3 linked regions of the Homo sapiens genome follow. The protein of the gene in region 1 purifies or fractionates together with the protein of each later gene. This does not show direct contact. Each region holds a gene or a part of one and is shown in the gene's direction. Other genes may lie near its edges.

Region 1 (8,523 bases):
TCCAGCCTGGGCAACAAGAGTGAAACTCAGTCTCAAAAAAAGAAAAAAAAAAAATAGCTGGGTGTGGTGGCAGGCGCCTGTAATCCCGGCTACTCGGAGGCTGAGGCAGGAAAATTGCTTGAACCCAGCAGGCGGAGGTTGCAATGAGCCGAGATCGTGCCATTGCACTCCAGCCTGGGCAACGAGCGAAACTCTGTCTCAAAAAACAAAACAAAACTATTTTATTTGCAGCATATTTGTGCTAGTTTTTGTCATTTGTACATGAATACATGTGGGAGGCTAGTAGAGCCTGGTCTGTGTATCTCACTGACTCACCACATACAAATTCTTTTCCAGGCTAGAGTTCAGGATTCATTTGCTTCTCAAGCATATCAGAACGACTGGTATTAGAGTTTGAAAAAGGTAGCTGGGAGTAGGGAGGGCGGGGCTCTGTTACTGGGTAATTTTACCTAGTATGTTTGCTTATTAGACTGATTTTTAGCAGTCGTCATTTTGTAAAATAGATAGGAATGGTCATAGCCACTGGATTTCCATGGGTAGGGTTTTGTAAGGTAAGTTGCAGTATAAGCCCCAAGGAATAATGGTATTAAATCACAATTTGTGAGATATTTGGTCTGTCATCAGTAGATCTGTGGGCCATTGTGCTGCAAGCTGTGGTATACCATTGAGATGATAGTGACTGTCTTTTCCCTCAAAGAGCCTGCAGTCTAGACCTGGCAGAAAAAAAAAAAAAAAAACTGCTTGTGAGGCACCAAGTCCCTCAGGAATTATATAAATTAATTGCAGTGAGAATAAGAAACGGGAGAGGATCATGGAGGTGGGGATTGGGAGGGATTGGGTTAGGCAGTACCTACATTGAAAAAGTGGAGATTGATCCAGGCTTGACGAGAGGTGTGTATAGAACCCCTGACTCCGGAAATGCAGAACTATTTGCTTAGTGGATACAGGGCCTTCTGGGCCTGTATTTTCAGTATCTGGGTCACCAGAAATATCGCTTCAGGGGTTTCTCATTGTTCTAGGAAATGTTTGTGTGCCCTGTCTCTTGAGGACATTCTCAGTCCACCTCAAGTGCTGTGTAGATGTTAAAGGAACATAGATGAGCTGGGAAACATTCCTGTAATGTTTCTCATGCAGGGTTATTTAAATATGGAGACTTGCGTTTGTTTTGTTTTTGAGACCAAATCTCACTGCAGTGCCCAGGCTGGAGTGCAATGGCGCGATCTTAGCTCACTGCAACCTCCGCTTCCCAGGTTCAAGCAATTCGCCTGCCTCAGCCTCCCGAGTAGCCAGGACTACAGGCGCATGCCACCACGCCCGGCTAATTTTTGTATTTTTAGTAGAGACGGGGTTTCTCCATATTGGCCGGGCTGATTGGTCTCAAACACTTGACCTCAAGTGATCCACCTGCCTTGGCCTCCCAAAGTGCTGGGATTACAGGCGTGAGCCACCGTCCCAGGCCGAGACTTGCTTTTGACCCAGTGTTTCCAAGGCAGATGGTTCTGATTGCCTTCAGTGGGGTTGGGAAGATGTCTGTTGTAAAGCTAGGTCATACTCAGATGACATCAATAAAGGTGTTGTGTGCCAATTTTGCCTTAGGCTTTTTTTTTTTTTTTTGGATTGACAGTCTTGCTTTGACGCAGGCTGGAGTACAATGGCACAATCATCGCTCATTGGCAGCCTCGAACTCCTGAGCTCAAGTGATCCTCCTCCCTCAGCCTCTCAAGTAGCTAGGATTATAGGCGCGCACCACCACACGCAGCTTATTTTTTATTTTTATTTTTGGTAGAGACAAGGGGTCTAGCCTTATTGCCCAGGCTGGTCTGAAACTCTGGCTTCAAGCCACCCTCCTGCCTCAGCCTCCCAAAGTGCTGGGATTACAGGCATGAGCCATGGCTCCCTGCACAGAAAGACCTTCTTAAAGTGCAGGTTTTGATTCAGTATGTCTGGGGCCTGAGATTCTGCATTTCTAACAAGCTCCTGGGTGATGCCAGTGGTGGGGTTCTGGAACCGCCCTTGAGTAGCACCGTAATGCTTGCTAAAGAATCATAGTTGTCTGTAGTTTTCCCAGCAGCCTCTAGATGTCCCCGTCATCCATGAGATACTGCTTCCAGAACTTTAAAACGAGCACAGCCTCCAAGGCCTGAGACGGAAAGGAGTATTTATTGAAATACTCAAGAGACGTATCTAGAAACTGGTGTTTGGATTTATTGTTTCTACACGGGACTGACTCTTTGGTGAAAAAGTGTTTACCTCTTTTTTTTTTTTTTTTGGAAAAAAACGGCCAGGCGCAGTGGCTCACGCCTGTAATCCCAACACTTTGGGAGGCTAAGGCAGGCAGGCAGATCACCTGAGGCCAGGAGTTCGAGACCAGCCTGGCCAACATGGCGAAACCCCGTCTCTACTAAAAATACAAAAAAAAAAAAAAAGCGGGGGCGTGGTGGTGAACGCCTGTAATCCCAGCTACTTGGGAGGCTGAGGGGGAAGAATCGCTTGAACCGGGGAGGCGGAGGTTGCAGTGAGCCGAGATTGCACCACTGCACTCCAGCCTGGGCGACAGAGCAAGACTCCGTCTCTAAATAAATAAATAAATAAATAAATAAATAATAAAAATGTCTTGAAATCAAGTTGGTTGTCGAAGAACTTCCCAGCTAACCTACTTTATTTACAATGGGATGCTAAATCCAAGTCAGAACATCTCAGAAATGAGCAGGTAGCCCTACATAAAAGTTCCAAGTACAGATAATTCTTTCCACAACATCTTAAAACTTGGATTGTTTTAATAAACTATTGTTACTATTAATTTTTTCACCATAAATTCACTTATAAACCACCAGTATTAACTAAAGCCATCCTTGCCTCCTGTGTAGACCACCCAGAGCCTCCTCCATGGCTGGGTAGATACAAAAATAAAACTGGCCACGTATTGAGTGTTGATGATGTGCTCATTGAATGAGCTCATTTAATCTTCACAGCAGCCCTATGAGGGGACTATTTTATTATCCCTTTTTATAGGTGAGGAAACAGGCATGGGACGGTTCAGTAACATCCATGGTTGCACAAATAGAAAATGGTAATCACTATATTAGACTGCCATTCAGACTCAAACGACATTTGTTGAGTGAGTTAATTTTTTTTCTTTTCTCTTTTTTCTTTTTTTTTTTTTTTTGAGATGGAGCCCTGCTCTGTCACCCAGGCTGGAGTGCAGTGGTACCATCTTGGCTCACTGCAACCTCTGCCCCCTGGGTTCAAGCCATTCTCCTGCCTCAGCCTCCTGAGTAGCTGGGATTACAGATGCGCACCATCACACTCAGCTAATTTTTGGATTTTTAGTAGAGACTGGGTTTCACCATGTTGGCCAGGCTGGTCTCGAACTCCTGATCTCAGGTGATCCGCCCGCCTCGGCCTTCTAAAGTGCTAGGATTACAGGCGTGAGCCACCACACCCTGCCTAATTTTTTTTGGTTTTCCAATAAGCACTGTGGTGTATGTGCTGTTAACTGTCTCCGGTGGACTCCGCAAGCTCGATGTACACAGTGCTGGGCTGGTGCCATGGCTGCTACTCTATGAAAAGTTTTTGACATCACACTGAATGGCTGAGACACTATAAACATTTTACTTTTCAACTCAACCTCGTGTCCTAGCAAAGGTGCTTTATCTAGTTTCTGTAGCTGTTCGAATGAAAGGCACAAATTTGGTGAGCTGCTGAGAATGGAGCAGACCTGGCACGGTGTGATCTAAGAGACTGGGGTGAACAGATGAATCAAGTTGCCTGTGACATTTGTGAGACACGGTGCTAGTATTCACCTTACTGTCTGGAGGGCCCAACCTCAAAGCCACTAAACATATGACATTAGCCAAGTCCTCTGATCTCTCTAGACAGCAGTTTTCTCCTAAGACAAGACGGCTTTTTGGCTTGGCTGAAGTAAGCCAGGTGATTTTAAACAATGCATTAAGCTCTTCTGAAATCTAACAGCCTTGTTCCATGCTCCTCGCTATGGAGAAGAGAGCGCTGAGGGAAAGAGGCCCTGTAGTCTTTTGCCAATGGTGTCGGATGGGCTGCTCAGTCCCAGCACTTGAAAGTTGCAAACCTAGTCAAGAAAGTGCACACAGTACTTCGGATTTTTATGAGATATAATTACATTGACATGACGCCTCATGATTTACCCATGACTCGGGGGGTTTCCAAACTCCAAACACCTCCAGACTGGAGCCCGTCAATCAGCTTCCTCTTGCTTTTCGTGGACTCCCACTGTGGAAACCTGCTGGTGTTTTGCTGCGGTTTCATTTCCCTCTGCGGAGGAGCCAGGGCAACCTTGGCCAGACAGGCACCTAGCTGTGCCCTTCTTTCCAGGGCCTCTTCTCCACTCAGCTGACTCCCCTGGCCTGCCTAACGCTCCTGACTGAGACGGTTTTCCGGCTTCCTCTAACAGGTTGGCGGGAAGTTGATCTGCAAACGCGAGGCAAAGCAGGAGTGTCCTTATTCGGTAGGCCTCTGATGGGCCACCAGAGCCGTCCGAAAGTCCTAGCGGAGTGATTGACAGTGGCCATTTCAAAGCCTGAGTTCACCTTCTTTGCAACCACAATCACGACCCAGAATAAACTGCTTCCTGGAAGCCGGCTAGTTGCACCTGGCCTGAAGTCAGTCTCGGGACTGCCTCTCAGGACCCCAGACAGGGTTTCGGGTTCCCGCCTGGGTCACGTGTACGGAGGCTGCCAGTGCGCACTCAGCCCGGCCCGCCGGTCGCCACAGCAACACCAATCCCGGGTTCAAGCCCGCCTAGGAAGTGCGGTCCCCGCCTGACCGCCCCGGGCTTAAGGGAGCCTGGCTAGGCCGGCAGCCGGATGGTCCCGCAGCTCGGGGCCGGCCATGCTTCGCGGTCCGTGGCGCCAGCTTTGGCTCTTTTTCCTGCTGCTGCTCCCGGGCGCGCCTGAGCCCCGCGGCGCCTCCAGGCCGTGGGAGGGAACCGACGAGCCGGGCTCGGCCTGGGCCTGGCCGGGCTTCCAGCGCCTGCAGGAGCAGCTCAGGGCGGCGGGTGCCCTCTCCAAGCGGTACTGGACGCTCTTCAGCTGCCAGGTGTGGCCCGACGACTGTGACGAGGACGAGGAGGCAGCCACGGGGCCCCTGGGTAAGACCCCGTCCCCACGGTCCGCCGTTCGCTGCGGAGCAGAGTGCGATCCGGGCGCGGCTGTGGTCGCCTCGCTCCTGTCCGGGGCGACATCTGGGCCCGCAGTCCTGCTCTGCTCAGCCGCCGGTACCGGCTGTGGGCGGGGGCAGCCTCCGCGGAGCAGGGAGCCCCATCACCGCCCTTGCCCCACCCGCGTCCCCTGCGCACCCCCCTGGCGCCCGGCTTCCCGTCCCCCGCCTCCCCTGATCCCTGCGCTTTCCAGATTCTCTCGCACCGCCTGTGCCATCTCCCAGCCCACCCTGGCGTTATTCGAAGGTGTTGCTCTTGACAGCTCTAGGGAACGTCCGCTGTGGACATGCCTGGTGACTGCCGTCTCCCTTGCTGCTTTTGGACGCAGGGCTTGAGGACCGACAGTGGGCCGAGTCGGGGCTGGGAGTTAGAATCTGAGTTCTGGGTGTCCCTCTGTCCCTGACAAGTTGTGTGGCAAGGTTGCCGCATCACTGTAGAGCACCGGATGGTCTCCTCTCGGTCTCACAGCTCCTCCTTTTCCAGGCTGGCGCCTTCCTCTGTTGGGCCAGCGGTACCTGGACCTCCTGACCACGTGGTACTGCAGCTTCAAAGACTGCTGCCCTAGAGGGGATTGCAGAATCTCCAACAACTTTACAGGTTGGACCCCGCATGGCTTCAAGGGGCTAGGGATCTGTGGGGAGGGGAGGCAGTCCAGGGGAAATGGTTAGATGCAAGGGACCTTTCGTCATCCTGCCCAGCCTCCCGACAAGCAGGAACTGCCACAGTCTGACTGAAGTTTTGAGGGAGTACCAAATGCTTGAGTCAGGGAAGCCCCTTTTTAGCCTCTAGCTTAATAGCCCAGGCAAACTGAGCTGTTTGTCAGGCCCAGAGCACCTTGTTTCACTCTAAACAGAAACAGCTACCTCTCAGAGGGGGCTGGAACTATCCAGAGAGAACTGATCAGAAATTCTGGGTTGTGATTAAAAGTGTCCCTTTCTTTTCTTTTTTTTTTTTGAGACGGAGGCTTGCTCTGTCACCCACACTGGAGTGCAGTGGTGCGATCTCAGCTCACTGCACCCTCCGCCTCCTGGGTTCAAGCAATTTTCCTGCCTCAGCCTCCCGAGTAGCTGGGATTACAGGTGCCTGCCACCACGTCCGGCTAATTTCTGTATTTTTAGTAGAGGCGGGGGGGGGGGGGGGGGGCGGGTTTCACCATGTTGGCCAGGCCGGTCTCGAACTCCTGACCTTGTGATTTGCCTGCCTTGGCCTCCAAGAGTGCTGTGATTACAGGCGTGAGCCACTGTGCCATGGCAACCAGTATTTTCTAATTAGTTTGGGTTGCTTGATTTGCATATCGCAGTTGATTTGCATTTTCACTCTCACAAGGTGATCTTTGGCCCCATGTTCTGAAACCTGTTCAGACATTTGCAAAAGCTTCCTCTCTTTTCCCCAGGAGCAATTTCTTGCCCAGAGTTCTCCTGATCCCAGGTCCTTCAATCTCCATAAATGAGGCCCACCCCAGATATTTAGGTCACTTAATTGGCCAAAATGCCAATAACACAGTGTGTTTAGGGACACAGTCTGGCTCAGGACAGAAGATAGGACTACATACAGGTCAGGAAGTCTTAATTTGGATCACTGCTGACTTGGATAAGACCCTAGGTAGCAATTAGCAAGTTACTTTCTGTCCTCAACATGCCTTTTGTTCGACAAGGGCCTGGATATCCAAATTGTTCTGGCCAGCGGATTGGAGACCCCTCCTAGTCGTGCCTCTTCCTTGCTGGCAAACTGAAGAGTCCTTCCCAAGTGTCCGTTTCCTCAGCTGTATTTTATTTTATTTTTTTTACTTATTTATTTTGAGACCAAGTCAGTCTCTGTCACCTAGGCTGGAGCAATCTCGTCTCACTGCAAACTCTGCCTCCCAGGTTCAAGCGATTCTCTTCCCTCAGCCTCCCGAGTGGCTGGGATTATAGGTGCCCACCACCATGCCCAGCTAATTTTTGTATTTTTAGTAGAGAGGGGGTTCACCATGTTGGCTAGGCTGGTCTCGAACTCCTGACCTCGTGATCCGCCCGCCTCAGCCTCCCCAAGTGCTGGGATTACAGGCGGGAACCACCTCGCCCAGCCAGTTTCCTCAGCTTTAAATGGGAATAATAATGCCTGCCTTGCAGAATTGTGAAGACCAAATGTAAAACACTTAGCCCAGTTCTGAATACAGAGAAAAAAGCAGCAAATGTTAATTTTCTTCTATGTCACTACTACTTTTGGAGCAATGTGTGATGCCCTCAATGTTTTATCATAGACCTTGACCTCCCAAGGCTCCAGAATACCTGCTCTGGGCTGGCTTAAGGTGTTCAACCAATTGATCCTGGATTTGGAATGCTCACCCACAGCTGGCCGCACACCCTGCCTGTCTGCACTGTGGCTCCTGGTAGCGCCATCTCCAAATCCTACAACCTCACGTCTGACAGGAGGAAGTTAGACCTAGCAGAAGGCTTTGCACACTGGAGCTGCTCTCACCAAGTGTTGGCTGAATTGAATGAGAATGAATAAAATCAGGCTTCTCCATAAAACAGGGAGCCCTGAAACCAAGGGATGGGAGCAGCCTCAGGACATGGGGGACAGGGTTCCTCCCTAGACAGGTCTGTGCCAACTGTTCTGGGTATCTGCAGGATCTTTAGGAAGGGTGATTCCACTCTCCCTGAGTCCCATCTTGATTTCCCAAACTCTTCAAAAAGTAGTCCTTGAGGCTGGGCGCAATGGCTCACGCCTGTAATCCCAGCACTTTGGGAGGCCGAGGTGGGCGGATCTCGAGGTCAGGAGTTCAAGACCAGCCTAGCCAACCTGGTGAAACCCGTCTCTACTAAAAATACAAAAATTAGCTGGGTATGGTGGTGGGCACCTGTAATCCCAGCCACTCGGGAGGCTGAGGCAGGAGAATCGCTTGAACCAGGGAGGCGGAGGTTGCAGTGAGCTGAGATTGCGCCACTGCACTCCAGCCTGGTGACAGAGCAAGACTCCATCTCAAAAAAAAAAAAAAAAAGAAAGTAGTCCTTGAATCCCTTCTGCTACAAAGTCTGCCCTCTGGCTTCTTATTCTAAGGCCAAACAGGAGGAGTAACTGATTCCACCCGAGAGAGATTCAGAGTTGCTTGGTTTCTTGGCTGTTGGCTGTTGTGGTGGATGGGCCTGTGTGTGCCTTTTGCTGTGACTACCTCTTTCCTGTCCTTAGGCTTAGAGTGGGACCTGAATGTGCGGCTGCATGGCCAGCATTTGGTCCAGCAGCTGGTCCTAAGAACAGTGAGGGGCTACTTAGAGACGCCCCAGCCAGAAAAGGCCCTTGCTCTGTCGTTCCACGGCTGGTCTGGCACAGGCAAGAACTTCGTGGCA
Region 2 (7,741 bases), about 120 Mb from region 1:
GGATCTTGTTATCTCTCCTTTTTCACGTTGTAAAGAGGATAGTGGAGTTTCTGCTACTGAGCACTATTTATTTCCAAAATGAATGCTGAGGCAGTTTCCCTTGTACCTTGTGGAATCACTGGCAAATTGTGTTGGAGGTCTGAGGAGCAGTGGGAAAAGTAGTGGTTCCAGGTATAGATTTATTGTACTGTAACCTCTTACATAATTATTTAGGCATTTATCCCTATTAAGTGGCTAAGTGGTCAGACTCTGGAATGTCATTGCCTTCATTGCTTGGTTTTCCTTTTATTACCTCAGTGGCCATGGACAAGTTACCTAACAATTTTATCTTCTGTAACAGGGTTATTATGAAGATTAAATGAGATGGTATATATATATATACAGAGAGAGAGAGAGAGAGAGAGAATTTTGCATGTACTAGATAGTAATAAATATTAACCAGTGGTAGTTATAGTAAACTAGCATCTCATTTAGTGTTTATCCTTAAAATAGCTGAAGAAGAAAATTTCGATGAGTATTAGAATTTTTTAACTGTAACTTTACATCATTGATTATTTTTTCATCATTTAGCTAAGAATTTTATTAATTGGAAAAGCGATGTATTCAGCGAAATACATCATACAAATTCAGGTATTTGAGGACGTAAAATTCTAGTGTATGCATTTGAGCTTTAGTGATATGTGCTGGAATGATTTTCAGAACTTTGAATTTTTCTTTTTGCTTTAGGGGCATAAGGAAATGGTGGCAGGCACTTCCTCCTAACAAGAAGGAAGTAGTTAAAGAAAATATAAGGAAGAATAAATGGAAGCTATTCCTTGGTTTGAGTAGTTTTGGATTGCTCTTTGTGGTGTTTTATTTTACTCACCTGGAAGTAAGTCCAATCACAGGAAGGAGCAAGCTACTATTATTGGGGAAAGAACAGTTCAGACTTTTATCGGAACTGGAATATGAAGCAGTAAGTAGTAAGAGTTGTTTTTAATTAGACTGCTTAATATAACACTCAAAGTAGGAAAGTATCTTAAATGTGAAAGATATGTTGTTTTTTAATTTTAGTCTTTGATATGAAATTAGCATTTTTTTTTCCCGAAGGCCTCAGACCTTTCACACTTAGTATTCCTACTGCCTACATTGCTTTTCCTAGCATTCACCCAGCTAACTCCTGCTCAGCACATTTCACCTTAAATGTCACTTTTCTCAGGAAAACCTTCCTTGATTATCCAGACTGGGTTAGGCAGGGTGACTGGATCAGGCCCTAGGAGGTATCCTTCATACCGACTGAATTATGAACCAGCTCATTTGTAGTTGCGCCCATTGCTTGGCTTTACTGGGGTTAGGTCTCCTAGGCTTTTTTTCTCTGCATACTGTACTTTTCCTTCAAAGCACTCATGAGAGTAACATAATTATTTGCATAATTATTTTTTTGATTGTCTTTCTTGTTAGACTAAGCTTCATGGGGGCAGGGATCTTACCTGTTTTGTTTATGGTTTTAAATACTAACACAGTATGTAAGAGTAGAGCTTAGTATATATTTATTGAATAAATAGATTTATAGTCAGAATTCTTATACCTTGAAAATCAAGTAATATAAGATTTTTTTCCCAAACATCAGTTTTAGCAATTTATTATATTTTTTGAATCCAAATTTAAGTTATAATTTAGAAGTCTTACCTCTTTGGAAAGTATAGTAACTCAGGTAGTTAAACATTTTGTACCCTAGTGAGTTTCTTAGGGACAGAGGTCATTTTCTCTCCAGTTCATAGCACATACACATGTTATGTGCCCTGTGGCTCAATTAATATTTTTCGAATTCATGTCCAGTAGCCTCACTTGACAGCTTTGGCATGGCTGAATCTTTTTTTTTTTTTTTTTTTTGAGACAGAGACTTGCTCTGTCACCCAGGCTGTACTGCAGTGGTGCCATCTTGGCTCACTGCAACCTCCACCTTACAGGTTCAAATTATTCTCCTGCCTCAGCCTCCCGAGTAGCTGGGACTACAGGCGTGCGCCACCACGCCTGGCCAATTTTTGTATTTTTAGTAGAGATGGGGTTTCATCCGTGTTGGCCAGGATGGTCTTGATCTCCTGACCTCGTGATCTGCCCACCTCCTAAAGTGCTGGGATTACAGGCATGAGCCACCATGCCCAGCCGCTTGTTGATTCTTAAGTGAAAAAAAGCATACACTTTATGAAAGTTAAAGTAATATTTCAGAACATTTTTAATTTTCTCAGTACACTTGAAAGAGCTCTCATGAATATAACTTCAGAAAAAGTATCTTCTGTGGTGGCTAGTCTTAATCAGCATCTTTTAGAGACAGTGATAATGCTCATTAGTTCTGAGAATTCAGTAATTTCCTTTCAATCTGTGAGTAAAACACCTTAAAATTAATGAAATGTCTATTTTGGTAGTTTAACTTTCTTATTAGGTATAGGGTGTTTTTCTGTTCAATGCATTGTGAATTTAATTTTCTTTTGTATTTTACTTAGATGAAATCTTAAGTTCTCCAGGCTCTCCTTTTCTTTTCTTTTTGAGATGGGATCTCCCTCTGTCACCCAGGTTGGTGTTGGAGTGCAGTGGCGAGATCTCAGCTCACTGCAACCTCCACCTCCTAGACTCAAGCGATCCTCCCACTTCAGCCTCCCATGTAGCTGGGAACACAGGTGCATGCCACCACGCCTGGCTAATTTTTTGTGTTTTCGGTAGAGACGGGGTTTCACCATGTTGCCCAGGCTGGTCTTGAACTTCTGAGCTGAGGTGATCCTCCTGCCTTGGCCTCCCCTAGTTCTGGGATTACAGGCGTGAGCCATCTTGCCCTGGCCTAGGCAGTGTTTTCTAAAATGTTTAGGAAAGTAGAAATAATACTTAAGTATTCGTTTGTAGTTTAATCGAAAAGAATGAAATTTTGATGTCAATCTATTCATAAAAAAACTTAGTATTAGAATTTATTCCTTTGTAAGAAACCACATTGTCTTTGCATGAATAATTCAGATTTGAGAAATTTCAGTGCTTAATATATGCAGATTTTTATATAATTAAAACTTAAAATGTTCAATAATAAGTAGCCATATAACTTTCCATGAAGCAGAGTAAGCATTTTGTAGTGCTCTTTTAAAATAAGAAGTAATTTTTAATCTTTCAGTGGATGGAAGAATTTAAAAATGATATGCTAACTGAGAAAGATGCCCGATACCTGGCTGTTAAAGAAGTGCTTTGTCATCTAATTGAATGCAATAAAGATGTTCCAGGGATCTCTCAGATCAATTGGGTTATTCATGTGGTTGATTCCCCAATTATTAATGCCTTCGTGCTTCCAGTAAGTAAATGTTCTCAAACGCATTGTAATTGTTAAATTTATTGTCCTTATTTTTTATGATGTTCTAATTGCTTACATTATTTTCTTTGTGGTGCAGAATGGACAAATGTTTGTTTTCACTGGATTTTTAAATAGTGTAACCGATATTCATCAACTTTCTTTCCTTCTGGGCCATGAAATAGCACATGCAGTACTTGGGCATGCTGTAAGTACCTAAAATGAATGTTCAGGTTTGGAAAAACTGCTTTGAAGTTAACAAGTTAAATCTTTTAAAGAACTGATTTTTTTCAGGTTTTTTAAAAATGATAGACTTTTAGTTTTGGGTAATTGCCTTAATCTGCTACCTGAAAAAAACGTGATTGGCTAATTTTGAGAATTTTTATGGTCTTTAGTATTTGATACTGAATAATATTTTTCTTAAATACTATTTTTATCACCTGTCTCTTTTGCTAAAACGTAATTATTCTCAACCCCTAATTATTTCAAATTAAATTTTAAACTTTCTATAATTATTAATATACTTGTAATCTAGTCAGAAAATTAATTGTAGGGAAGTGATATTACTATTTAAGTGGGTAAATCATCTTTCTTTTTTATTCATTCTCAGAGGATAGCTTGGAGCATCTTTGAAAATGTCTAGAATGATGTGTCATGTGTAATTAATACAGAGTAATAACAATACCTTGCCATTTTACAGTTTACTGAGCTTTTTAGTATATGTGGCTTCCCATTCATAATTTTAATACCCAATGAGGTATGTATTTATTATTACTATTTTATATAAGAGAAAACTAATGTTTAGAAAAACAGTAACATGACTAACCTGACAAAGTAACCGAACTGGGACTTTAACGTGGGTCTTCTGTATGTTAGTCCAGTGTTTCTTCCTTTCACTACAGTTACCTGGTTTTTAGCAGCGCTTTTCTTATAGATCATAGAATTCAAGTTGATGTATGCTCCTGTGAATACATGTCTGTTCATCTTGATATAAGTCCAGGAAAAATAACACATCTGTTTCACACATTTTTTAAATTGTTATTCATTTAAAAATATAAATGGCTCTTTTGTCTACATTAGAGAAAGTATTTTTTAAATTGTAAACGCAAAGGTACATAGTGAAGTGACTGAAATGCTAAATCAGAAATACAAGTAACATTAACTTCAAATGGAAATGATAATGATTCTAATCCTTCTAAGAGTAATCTCAAATTCTACCTGTTCCTTAGACTATTAATAAGATGAGATGGGCTAAATTGTTTTTCTGAAACACTGAAAGTAATTATCTCCTTGATTTCTTTTGAGTTACAGGAAGATTTTAAAAACATTTTTCTTGACTGGGTGCAGTGGCTTATACCTGTAATCCCAGCACTTTGAGAGGCTGAGGCAGGAGTATTGCTTGAGCCCAGGAGTTTGAGACTGGCCTCGGCAACATAGACTCAGTCTGTACAGAAAAATTTTAAAAATTAGCTGAGCATGGTGGCTCACACCTGTAGTTCCAGCTGTTCTGGAGCCTGAGGCAGGAGGATTGCTTGAGCCTGGGAGATCAAGGCTACAGTGAGCCATGATCGCACCACTGCACTCTAGCCTGGGTGACAGAGTGAGACACTGTCTCAAACAAAAAAGTAAGAAAAAAAATCTTTTTTTCTTAAACAAATATACACAAGAATACGTCTAAGCAGTGTTATTATATGCACTCTAATATCTTTCAAGTAATGGCTTCACAACTGCAAAATCAGTTTTGGCCATTTTAGCATTTGAAAGGTGTTACTATTCAGTACATTTGTTTTTTAGGCATCTAGTTCAGTGCCTTATATTCAGTGTATTGTCATCTCTATCAGTGCAAGAACAGTAGTAGATGAGGTGTAAAAAGCAAACAGCAGCCTTAAAAATAGAACATAGTTATTAATATGTTTTTGCAGAGATCTTAAACATTGTCAGCACAATATTTTCTCTTTTGGGAGTCTCAGTTTTGATTTTATCTAGGCGTTTATGTTTTCTTTATTCTACAAATACAGGTTTTTGTGTGTGTATTTCCAGTTTTCTAAGACTGTATAATAGCAATTATATTCTTTAATAACAAGGGCTTTCTCTTCTATAACAACTTCCTTATTTTGAGTTTCACTTTTTCATGTTAAAATAATTTCATAATTGGGCTGGGCACAGTGGCTCACCCCTGTAATCCCAGCACTTTGGGAGGCTGAGGTGGGTGGATCATGAGGTCAGGAGTTCAAGACCAGCCTGGCCAACATGGTGAAACTCCATCTCTGCTAAAAATACAAAAAATAGCTGAGCATGGTGGTGGGTACCTGTAATCACAGGTACTCGGGAGGCTGAGGCAGGAGAAACATTTGAACCTGGAGGCGGAGGTTGCAGTGAGTCGAGACCTCGCCACTGCACTCCAGCTTGGGCAACAGGGCAAGACTCTGTCTCAAAAAAAAAAAGATAAATCCATAATTGTTTTTCAAAACACACATTTGTGTTTTGAGGCAAAGTAATGAGGCAAATATAAGGAGGTAAAGTATGTTTTGTGAGGGTACAATATTTGTTAAGGGACAATATTCTAAGTCAGTTTTTAGTTTTCAGTCATTTTTCATACATTCAAGTAATGACTGCTATTTTATCAGTTTCAGCATTACAACATTAACATTTACTAATCACCTTTAATGGCAAACCATGAACAATCTAGTTCATTAAACTTAGATATTACTACTCAAAACAACTATTTTATGAAAAATCTTTTTTGGTAACTGATATAAGTAAATACAAAAATTCATAGAACCTGATTCTTTCATGATAAATACTAGACTTACAAATTTACAAACTTGTATAAATGAATAATATTTCATATATTAGGTCTTGAAGATCAGAATACTTTTATTTAAAATAAACTTCCAGTCTTTTTCTGAATTTTTTCTTGTTTTAAGTGCTTCATATGTTAGGTAGTGTTTAGTCTTTATCCAAAAATATTAGTAAAATAAAACATTTACTTGATTTTTTAAAATGATGCAACTATATTAAAAACTAAAACTGACCGGGTTTGATTTCTGGTCCTTTTAGTAATAGCTGTGCAAATCTGGGCAACTCTTAACCTCTCTCTATCTCAGTTTCATTATCTATAAATGTAGGGATAATTGTAGCTATTTCACAAGATTATTATGCCTGTTAATATAAGAAATTGTAGGTTTATATCCTCTGACTAATAGTAAGTGGCTTAGTAGATACTAGTTAAATGAATGAATAGGTATATAAGTAGATAAACCAAGGAAGGGAAAAACAGACCCGGAAAGAATAAGCAAAAGAAGAAAAAGAGAACTCTCAGTCTTAGGTGGAGAAGGTCAGGTAATTGTAACACATGATGAACTAGAAAATGTAAGCATATACTGTCTCAATGTATAAAATGTAGTTTTTATTATTTTGATTATTCTTAGGCAGAAAAGGCTGGCATGGTTCATTTGTTGGATTTCCTAGGTATGATTTTCCTCACAATGATTTGGGCCATTTGTCCTCGAGATAGCTTGGCACTTTTGTGCCAGTGGATACAGTCTAAATTGCAGGAGGTAAGTCTGAGACAATAACTTGAATTGATCATAGCCTCTGGTGAAGATATTTTAATACTACTGTAAAGCAGCAAATCCAGAGATGTTTTTACATTTTACTATGAAATATGGGTACGAATTTTTAGTGTCTTATGTTTTCTCGTTTTTAGGGGATATTCTTATATATGAATATTTAAATTAAGGAATACTACATCTCTCAAATGATGGGTATGGAGAGTTAGAAGGGCTTGGCAACTTTTGGCTAATAAAATTTTTGAAAATATATTTATTGGTTTTACAGAGAGAAAACCCAGCCACTGACCCTTCCTTTCGTAGTAACTGAATGACTCCCAAATTCAGCTGTCCCTTGGTATACAGGACTTCTTGTGGATACCAAAATCTGAGTATGCTCAAGTCCTTGATAAAAAATGGCATGGTATTGGCCGGGCGCCGTGGCTCATGCCTGTAATCTCAGCACTTTGGGAGGCCAAGGTGGGTGGATCACGAAGTCAGGAGATTGAGACCATCCTGGCTAACGTGGTGAAACCCTGTCTCTACTAAAAATACAAAAAAATTAGCCTGGCGTTGTGGCGGGCGCCTGTAGTCTCAGCTACTTGGGAGGCTGAGGCAGGAGAATGGCGTGAACCCAGGAGGCAGAGCTTGCTGTGAGCCGAGATTGCGCCACTGCACTCCAGCCTGGGCGACAGAGTGAGACTACATCTCAAAAAAAAATAAAAATAAAAATAAAAGCATGGTGTTTGCATGTAACTATGCACATCCTCTCATATACTTTAAATCATCTCTAGATTACTTGTAATTCAATGTAAATGCTATGTAAATAGTTATTTTACTATATATATTTTTAAGTTGTAGTTTTTTAAATTGTTTTTTCGTA
Region 3 (7,741 bases), on another chromosome or scaffold:
TAGCACTGCACCAGGAGAGCTAAGAAGTGCTTAATAAATGGTGGTCATTGCTGTAATCAATAGAGAAGTTCCTCCTGGCATCGACTTCCCCTTACCAAAAACAGTAACCCTGTGGTAGCCTTTTAGATTTCCCTGTCTGAGACTGAAATCAGCCACATTTGGCAGATGCACATCAGAAGGTTCTTAAAACCTAAGTAGTATTTTGAGGAAAATAAGCATGATTTGCTTGTTGTTCAAAAATTATGAATTTTTTTCTGGGCTTCTGGTGAAGGGCTGAATATATGAAGGTTTGTAGTTTTGAAAATTTTCTTGTTTTAAAGAAAAGTCATGTTTTAGGTTTCTGATAAACTAAAGTTGTGCTAAAAATAGGAAAGTAGAACTGATAATTCATAGTTGATTTTGACTATACTGTTCAGATATGTGGTTTTTTTTAAAAAAAATAGTTGCATTAGTGAGGCATCGTTGGTATGTTCTGAAGAGAAATATGCAGGGCTTTTTCAGCTGATGCAGGGATAAAAGAAAAGGTGAATCTTCTGTTTCTCAAACTTTGAAACTTAGCTTTAAATGTTTTTTTCTTTTTTTTTTGAAATGGAGTCTCACTCTCCCGCCCAGGCTGGAGTGCAGTGGTGCAATCTCAGCTCACTGCAACCGCTGCCTCTTGGATTCAAGTGATTCTCCTGCCTCAGCCTCCCCAGTAGCTGGGATTACAGGCATCCACCACCACGCCTGGCTAATTTTTGTGTCTTTAGTAGAGACAGGGTTTCACTGTGTTGGCCAGGCTGGTCTCGAACTCCTGACCTGGTGATCCACCCGCCTAGGCCTCCCAAAGTGCTGGGATTACAGACGTAAGCCACCGCGCCTGGCCTTAGCTTTAAATGTTTTCTAGCAATGCTAGGGTTTCATGAAAATCCTAATTTAGGGATGCTGATCCACAGCTGTTAATACTCTTGACATACTGGGTCAGTGCTTTTCATTCTTTCTGACTTGGTTAATGGATGTAGTATTTGACTGTATTTTTCTGTATTTTTTTGATGGTTTTATTGGAAAGTCTGTTAGAGACTTTAAAAATTAATAACTGCCTATGGTTACTTTTATAAACATTGAGACCTTGAGATCTTGCAACTAGGATAATACTTGGTGATGTGTAATCTATTGCAACATCCCTGATGGTGGTACATACATCACCAATACTGAAAGATTCTCATAAAGGCCTTTTGGTCTCTTATGTAAGTGCCCAGGGGAAACTAAAGTCATTTGGTTGCTTGGTATTTTTGGTGTGTACAGAAGGTTAAAACATGAATTAAACTAGACTCTGAAGTGGTAAATGTTTCCTGGCTGCATCCAGTAAAGAAAACAGCACAAACACCCAAAAGGTGTGGACCCAGCTGTCTTTTTCTCCACTCTCTAAGGTGGGATTGCTGTTCCTACGTACTTGCCAAATATGTCTGCAAATTACAGAATGAATACATTCCTCTCTCTGGAGAGGCAATTACTGTTTGAATAAGAGGTGTATGTATGTGTGGGGTAAGGTTTTGGGAGAATTGATGTAATGATTTCATCATCACTCACTGGTAAGGAGACTTTGCCAGGCTGGAACCTGTTACTTGATGGAGAATTTATTATTAGGGCTTATGTGGCACAATTACTTTGCTGCTGGAAAAAGTTATTTGTACTGAGTTTTCTATTTGTTACAAATTTTAAGAGTTGAGATTTTTGCCCTCTGTGTGTTGCCCTGTGAGTATTAACAACCTCTGCCCACCAGCTTTGTCTTTTTGCCTTGTCTTAATTTTTGTAACAAAAATTCAGATGTCTTTTGAGAGTCATAACATGTATCTTGTGCAATTTTAGCTTTAGGTATTTTCATATATAACTTTAAGAATGTTACACATTATTTTCTGTGCATCTATAACTTAAAAAAAACAAAAACCATTTTCTGATGTGGCTACAGAGGGGGAAATTCCCAGTAGCCAGGAAATTGATACTTTCTACTTTTCATTCTGTGGCATTTTAAAACAGAGGGTTCAGGTGTCTTCATTCTGATATGAGTAGGATGTACGTAGCTTACCAGAATGTTTGAAAAAAATGATAATCCAAGGTAATCAATTCTGGCATGTGGCTAGATTCTGTCCGAGTGCCATGTGGTGGTTTAGTGGTTAAGAGCATAAACTTGGAGTCCATAAGATGAGGATTTTTTTAACTTCATGTATAACATGCAGTAAAGTGTGAGAAGTGTTAATATTAAGCATGAGCTCATGTATGTAAGCTCTCAGATTAAGAAATAAACATTTTCAGTACTGCAGAAGGTTCCTGCGCCCATGTCTTGTCCGTGTTCCCACCCCCTCACCCTGAAGGAACTGTTATTCTTTCTTACATCATCATAGATGTGACTTCTGTCATCATAGATGGGTTTTACCTGTTGAACTTCATGTAAGTGGAATCAGTCATACAGTGTGGCATGTAGTCTTTTGTGAAATAGGCTTGAATTCTATTTTTACCACTTATTGTGTGACTACGGACAAGTTATTTAATCTGAGTCTCAGTTACGTATGGGAATGCCTAAAGTTAAAATTACACGAACTATTTCAGGATAAATTTTCTCACTTGTAAAATGGGGAAGATAAAGCCCTATGTTAGATTTACTGGGGAAAGTAATATAAAGCTACACCTAGAATACCTAGCACTGTGCCTGACTGCAGTTTCCTCTTCCCCTTTTTATTTCTTTAACAGGGTGATAACTAAAGCAACTAGATCTTTTGTGTTTAAATGAGCTATTTCATTAAAAGTTCTGTAGGTCTTTTATTGAAAATTAGAAGACAAATCTTTATTTAATACTTTGTTGATATAGCTTTAGCTTTAAGATGTATTATTTGTTAGTTGCCTGTTTTTGACATTTCCTCTCTAAAGACAGTCATTGAAATGTCCCATTCAGAGTTGTTTGGCCACCTGTGTAACATGAGCTAGGATGCAGTGATGAGAACTGGTTTATGGTCAATTATGGAGCTTGTGGAAGAGTTTAGTTTGGGTAAGAGTCATCAATAAGTGCCCAAGATGCTCACAACATCTGCTTTATGTTTAGTGAAATAATTATTTCAGAGGTGAAAGCACAGGACCAATTATTTTAATTGCTTGCTTCAGACAAGCCACTTAAAACATTTTCAGCTCTTGTAATCTTACCGTGTAAGCGGTATTACATAATTCCATGGCCTCATGTCTCCTTATTTGTTTGGTACTTTTCATTTTTGGACTCATTCTGCAAATGTAACTTGGGTAGTACTTGGCATTCTTTCTAAATGACTTTCATTAAATGTTTATTTAGAAAAAGTATTCAAGATAAAGTAAAGGAAAATAAAACTAATTCCACCCTCTCTCACCACTATAACTACATTAACTTGATGTGGGTCCTTCTAAGTGCTCATTTCTTCTTTTGTACACTTCTAGAATGACCTTAGGAAAAACATACTTCCAATACTTTATGGAAATTTAAAACAAAATATGGGCCTGCTTAGAGATGTCTAGCAGAGAAGGCAAGAGTCTTCGTAGGCCTAAGTTCAAATCTGTCCACACTGTGGTCCCTACTTGTACCTTTGTTAGTGCTGAGCAGACAGTCCCCAGAGACTCCATCAGAGGGTCCCCTGGTCTCCAGATTACAGTAGCCAACACGGAAAACCTGCCCTGGAATACTTCTCCATTAAGACCTCAAGATGTTTGGTGAAGTGAGCAGTTTGTTCTCCGACCAAACACGCATTGATTGAGCACTTGGTGTGTGCCTAGCACTGTGCTTGGCTGTGCGTGATTGCTGCCTTCAGTGGGCAGTGTGGTGGAGACAGCCAGGAACTGGTAAGATTGCCTTGGTAGAGGTGTAAGCCAATTATGTGTTGGAGGCAGCCAAGAAAGGCTTCTTAAGGAAGTGGCCTTTGGGCTTGGTCTTGAAGGATGTGAATAACATTTCAGAGGCAGAGAAAGGAAGGTAGAAGTGCTCAAGGGATTGTAGGCTGAGAAAACAGGACACAACAGAAAGGCTCATAGAGGTCTTTTGGGGAAACAGCAGGTGATCCATTGGGTTTGGAGTGCATGGTGCTTAGAAAGGTGTAATAGGCCATGATGCAATCTCGGGGATCATGCAGAGATGTGGCAGTTAATAGTTATGGAGGTAGTGAGGAACCAGTGAAAGTTCTTGTGGTCAGGGGAGAGAGAGAGAGGGTGTGGGTGCTGACAAGTTATGGCCAGGCTTGCATTGAGGAAGATGGGCCTGAGCGTGAATGAGGCGAGCCTGACCCCGGGCAGGTCATTGCAGTCCCTGCGTTCTCTGCTTCCCATTTGCCCCCTACCAGTTTCTCTCAGAAAGAAGCTGGAGGGATCCTTTAAAAACTGAAATGACTTGAGGTTACTTTTCTACTCAGAATCCTCCAGTCAGAATCCCTGTCTTCTTCAGAGGAAAGCCAGAGTTCAAATGTCACCTACCAGGACTGGTGATCTGCCCTCCTCCTCCTACCTCCCTTCTCCCCCTCATTTCACTCCAGGCACAAGGCCCCCAGCTTTCCTGCCTCTGGCCTTTGTGGTGACTGCTCCCCCTGCCTGGAACTATCCTCACCTCTTCTCTGAGAGGAGGTTTTCTCTGATCACCCGGCATAAAGCAGCCTTTCCTTATCCCCTGTGCAGTGCTTCATATTTCATCTAAGTGTTTATCAACCTTACAGCAATCAACTCTGACTTGGTTCTTTGCTGCCTGTTTTCAACACTGCTTGGTTTAAGTAGGCGTTTGACATTTGTTGAGTTAGGCCACTTCATTAAAGTTAGTCTTAGTAGAGGGGAAACTGAGGGCTCAAACCAGGGCAGGGATAGTACAAGATTGAAATATGTATGTGTGTTGTTTGGAAGAGGTGGGTGAGAGAAAGACTCCTGGTGGGTGTAAAGGAATTTGGAAACCAACTAAGGGAGGTTAGGAGAAGGGCCATGACACAGGTATATTGGGGCATTTTTTAGCATACGGGATATGGGAGTCTGTAGTGATGTCTAGGGGACAAGAATAGGGGGTAAGGGAAGACCCAGCAATAGACTTGGGCCCAGAACTGTGGAGCAAGTCCATTTTGTGGGATGGGGCCAAGGAGCAAAGGCTGCCAACATGCAAGAGAACCCTGGGGGTTCCTGAGCTTGGGGTGGGGTAGACATGGTGGCCAGCAGTATTGGGTGCCCTAGAAAGTCAGGAGGGTGCAAGGACTGCGAAGATTCTAGAAGGTGAGGGGGATTGGGAGGGTCAAGGCAGGACAAATGGGCATGACAAGGAGCATGTGCCTGGTGCCTTTGGAGAGGGAGAGGCTGAAGATGGGGGAAACAGTGGAGATTGCTATTGGTGCAAGACCCCAGAAGCAGCAAGAGCTGTCACAGGGAGTGGAGATCCTGGGAGTTGGGGGTCAGGGACTGGCTGATGTAGAGAACTTGAAGTAGGTTTTGGTCCCAGAGCTGACATCAAATGTCTTTGTAGCTATGGCAACCCACTTAGCTCCTGTTTCCCACCTCCCTGCAGAATCGCATGAAACCTGCACAGCCAATTTCACATGTTTATTATTGGAATCCATTGAACTCATGAATATGAAAGTGTTAATGCTCTGGGAAGATATTTCTATGGACCATAAACTTGCTGCAGTTTATTTGTGCTTCAGAATTTTTTTTGAGACAGAATTTCCCTCTTGTTGCCCAGGCCGGAGCGCAATGGCATGACCTTGGCTCACTGCAACCTCTTTCTCCTGGGTTCAAGCAATTCTCCTGCCTCAGTCTCCTGAGTAGCTGGGATTACAGGCATGCACCACCATGCCTGGCTAATTTTGTATTTCTAGTAGAGACAGGGTTTCTCCGTGCTGGTCAGGCTGGTCTCGAACTCCCAACCTTAGGTGATCCACCTGCCTTGGCCTCCCAAAGTGCCTGGTAGAAATTTTTCTAATTGTTTATTTTCTTTGAGAAGCACTTAACATCCAACTGGTTCTCCAAAGTACTTCTTTTTTGAGTCTTGATCAGGGAATAACACAATTGTGGTGAGTTTTATGTGCATGTGTGTTTTTAACCCTCCAGGTCTGGCTCTAGATTGTTCACTGGGAAGCCGAATGATATTTTCAGATTCAAATATATTTGTCTAATAATGAAAGGGTCGAAGTGTTACAAATGCTATCCTTTCTAAATAGTCAACATTTGGAACTAGTGAGATATATTTTTACCTTTATTATTTTATGGTTGTCTTTGAAGCTTGTTTATAAGGAACTTTTATGTAACTTTATTCTTGAGATGCAGCCATTATATTTTTGTTCTTTTCCTTTACCACATAAGGAATTATTTCCTTCAAATGAACTTAAAATATCTCTCATGAATACTCCTATTTTTAACTGAATGTTTCTCTTTTTTAAAAAACTTTTATTCTTCAAAGTTCTGATGGATCGTCTTTTTTTAACTCTTTATAATGGAAATTTTCAAACAAGTGCAGATACAGAGAATGGTATCATGAAGCTTCAGGTAGCCACCAGCGGCTTCAGGGTGATGATTCTTTATTTTCATCTCTACCCCACTCACGACTAGGGGCCCATGGGCACCATCTAGAGAGGGAGAGAGAAGAAGGTCACAATGGACCACAGAGTGGGCAGCCATCAATTTAGAGATAGCGGAGGCTGGGGGAGAAGATTGGACGCCCCCAGGGAGAGTGACAGGCAGACCGGCGAGATTGGAAGCCCGTGGCACTGGGATTGCTGTGGTCCCTCGTCCCTCCACATATGTGATCACCTATGGTATATGAAGGGAACGTGCAGAGACTCGTTTAAAACTGAGGTGACTCAAATTGCTTGGTAAAAGAGGCCCAGTTTTTAAGCAGTTCAATAGTGCCCACATATTGAGCAAACATGTTCTCTTTTTACTGTGGCGACAAAAACTTTTCTTGGCGGGTGGCCGGAGAAAGCTATGTTACTATTGCACTTCTTTAAATACGGAAGCAAGTCTTGGTCGAAGGCCTGAATGATGCCTCCCCTTTTATAGAACATTTGGATAAAAGGCCAAAGTGTTACTTTTTTTTGAGGATACGTATTTTAAAATGTATATGGTTTATTTTGATACTTAAAAAGCAACAACTTGAAAACAACAGTCCTGAAACACTTGTCAGTAAGGTGTTAGGATTTAACCAGCCTTTGAGAAAGGGAGAAGAGGCGGGACAGGAATCCGAGATGGAGCAGGGAGCTGGTTTGCTTCTTTGCCGCCTTGCTCTGAAGTTGCCACCCAGGGTCACACATCACTAGAAGTGTTTTCCTCTGGGAGGAGGATGATGTCTGACTGTGGAGAAGAGGCAGCATCCCAGAGGGAGCCCAATTTAACTGGATGCTCAGTGTGAGAGGAGGAGCGCTGGCATTTAGTGGCTGTGTGCCGTGGGCGGGGCCTGCCAGCCCTTGGCTGTCATTTGCCACCTGAGGGACAGGCTGCTTAGTTCCAGCCTCCTGGCTCACCTGGAACCATTTCTCCTGGGAAGCATGGTAGCCAGGAGAGTGGATTCCAGGTGGTGAGGGCTTGGTACTCCTTTTGGGGGATCCTGAGTGCCAGGAGAAGAGGATGAAATCGATGGACTGGGGGAATCAAGGCTGTCCTCATGGAAGAGGAGACAGGATTTGAACCTGGGCCTTCAAGGATGGGGGTAAGGATGGAGAGAAGCAAGATAAGGGATGTTTTAAGCCAGGAGAAACCAGGCTGAGAAGAGGTATGGGTGGGGAGGATA

What was found. Proteins that work in one complex are often made in the same cells at the same time.
Region 2: the proteins of TOR3A (region 1) and OMA1 purify together in Homo sapiens (affinity purification with mass spectrometry; 3 studies listed by BioGRID and IntAct, with this or other methods). This does not show direct contact.
Region 3: the proteins of TOR3A (region 1) and B3GNT2 purify together in Homo sapiens (affinity purification with mass spectrometry; 2 studies listed by BioGRID and IntAct, with this or other methods). This does not show direct contact.

Annotation. Positions count from the first base shown.
Region 1 is NC_000001.11:179,077,263-179,085,785, forward strand, and holds the start of TOR3A (torsin-3A precursor), read left to right. Parts: upstream 1-4,807; 5' UTR 4,808-4,866; coding exon 4,867-5,125; intron 5,126-5,677; coding exon 5,678-5,791; intron 5,792-8,365; coding exon 8,366-8,523.
Region 2 is NC_000001.11:58,529,727-58,537,467, reverse strand, and holds part of OMA1 (metalloendopeptidase OMA1, mitochondrial precursor), read left to right. Parts: intron 1-726; coding exon 727-955; intron 956-3,136; coding exon 3,137-3,310; intron 3,311-3,407; coding exon 3,408-3,515; intron 3,516-6,738; coding exon 6,739-6,867; intron 6,868-7,741. UniProt on the Homo sapiens protein: Metalloprotease that is part of the quality control system in the inner membrane of mitochondria. Activated in response to various mitochondrial stress, leading to the proteolytic cleavage of target proteins, such as OPA1, UQCC3 and DELE1.
Region 3 is NC_000002.12:62,198,374-62,206,114, forward strand, and holds part of B3GNT2 (N-acetyllactosaminide beta-1,3-N-acetylglucosaminyltransferase 2), read left to right. Parts: intron 1-7,452; exon of another isoform or gene 7,453-7,544; intron 7,545-7,741. UniProt on the Homo sapiens protein: Beta-1,3-N-acetylglucosaminyltransferase involved in the synthesis of poly-N-acetyllactosamine. Catalyzes the initiation and elongation of poly-N-acetyllactosamine chains. Shows a marked preference for Gal(beta1-4)Glc(NAc)-based acceptors.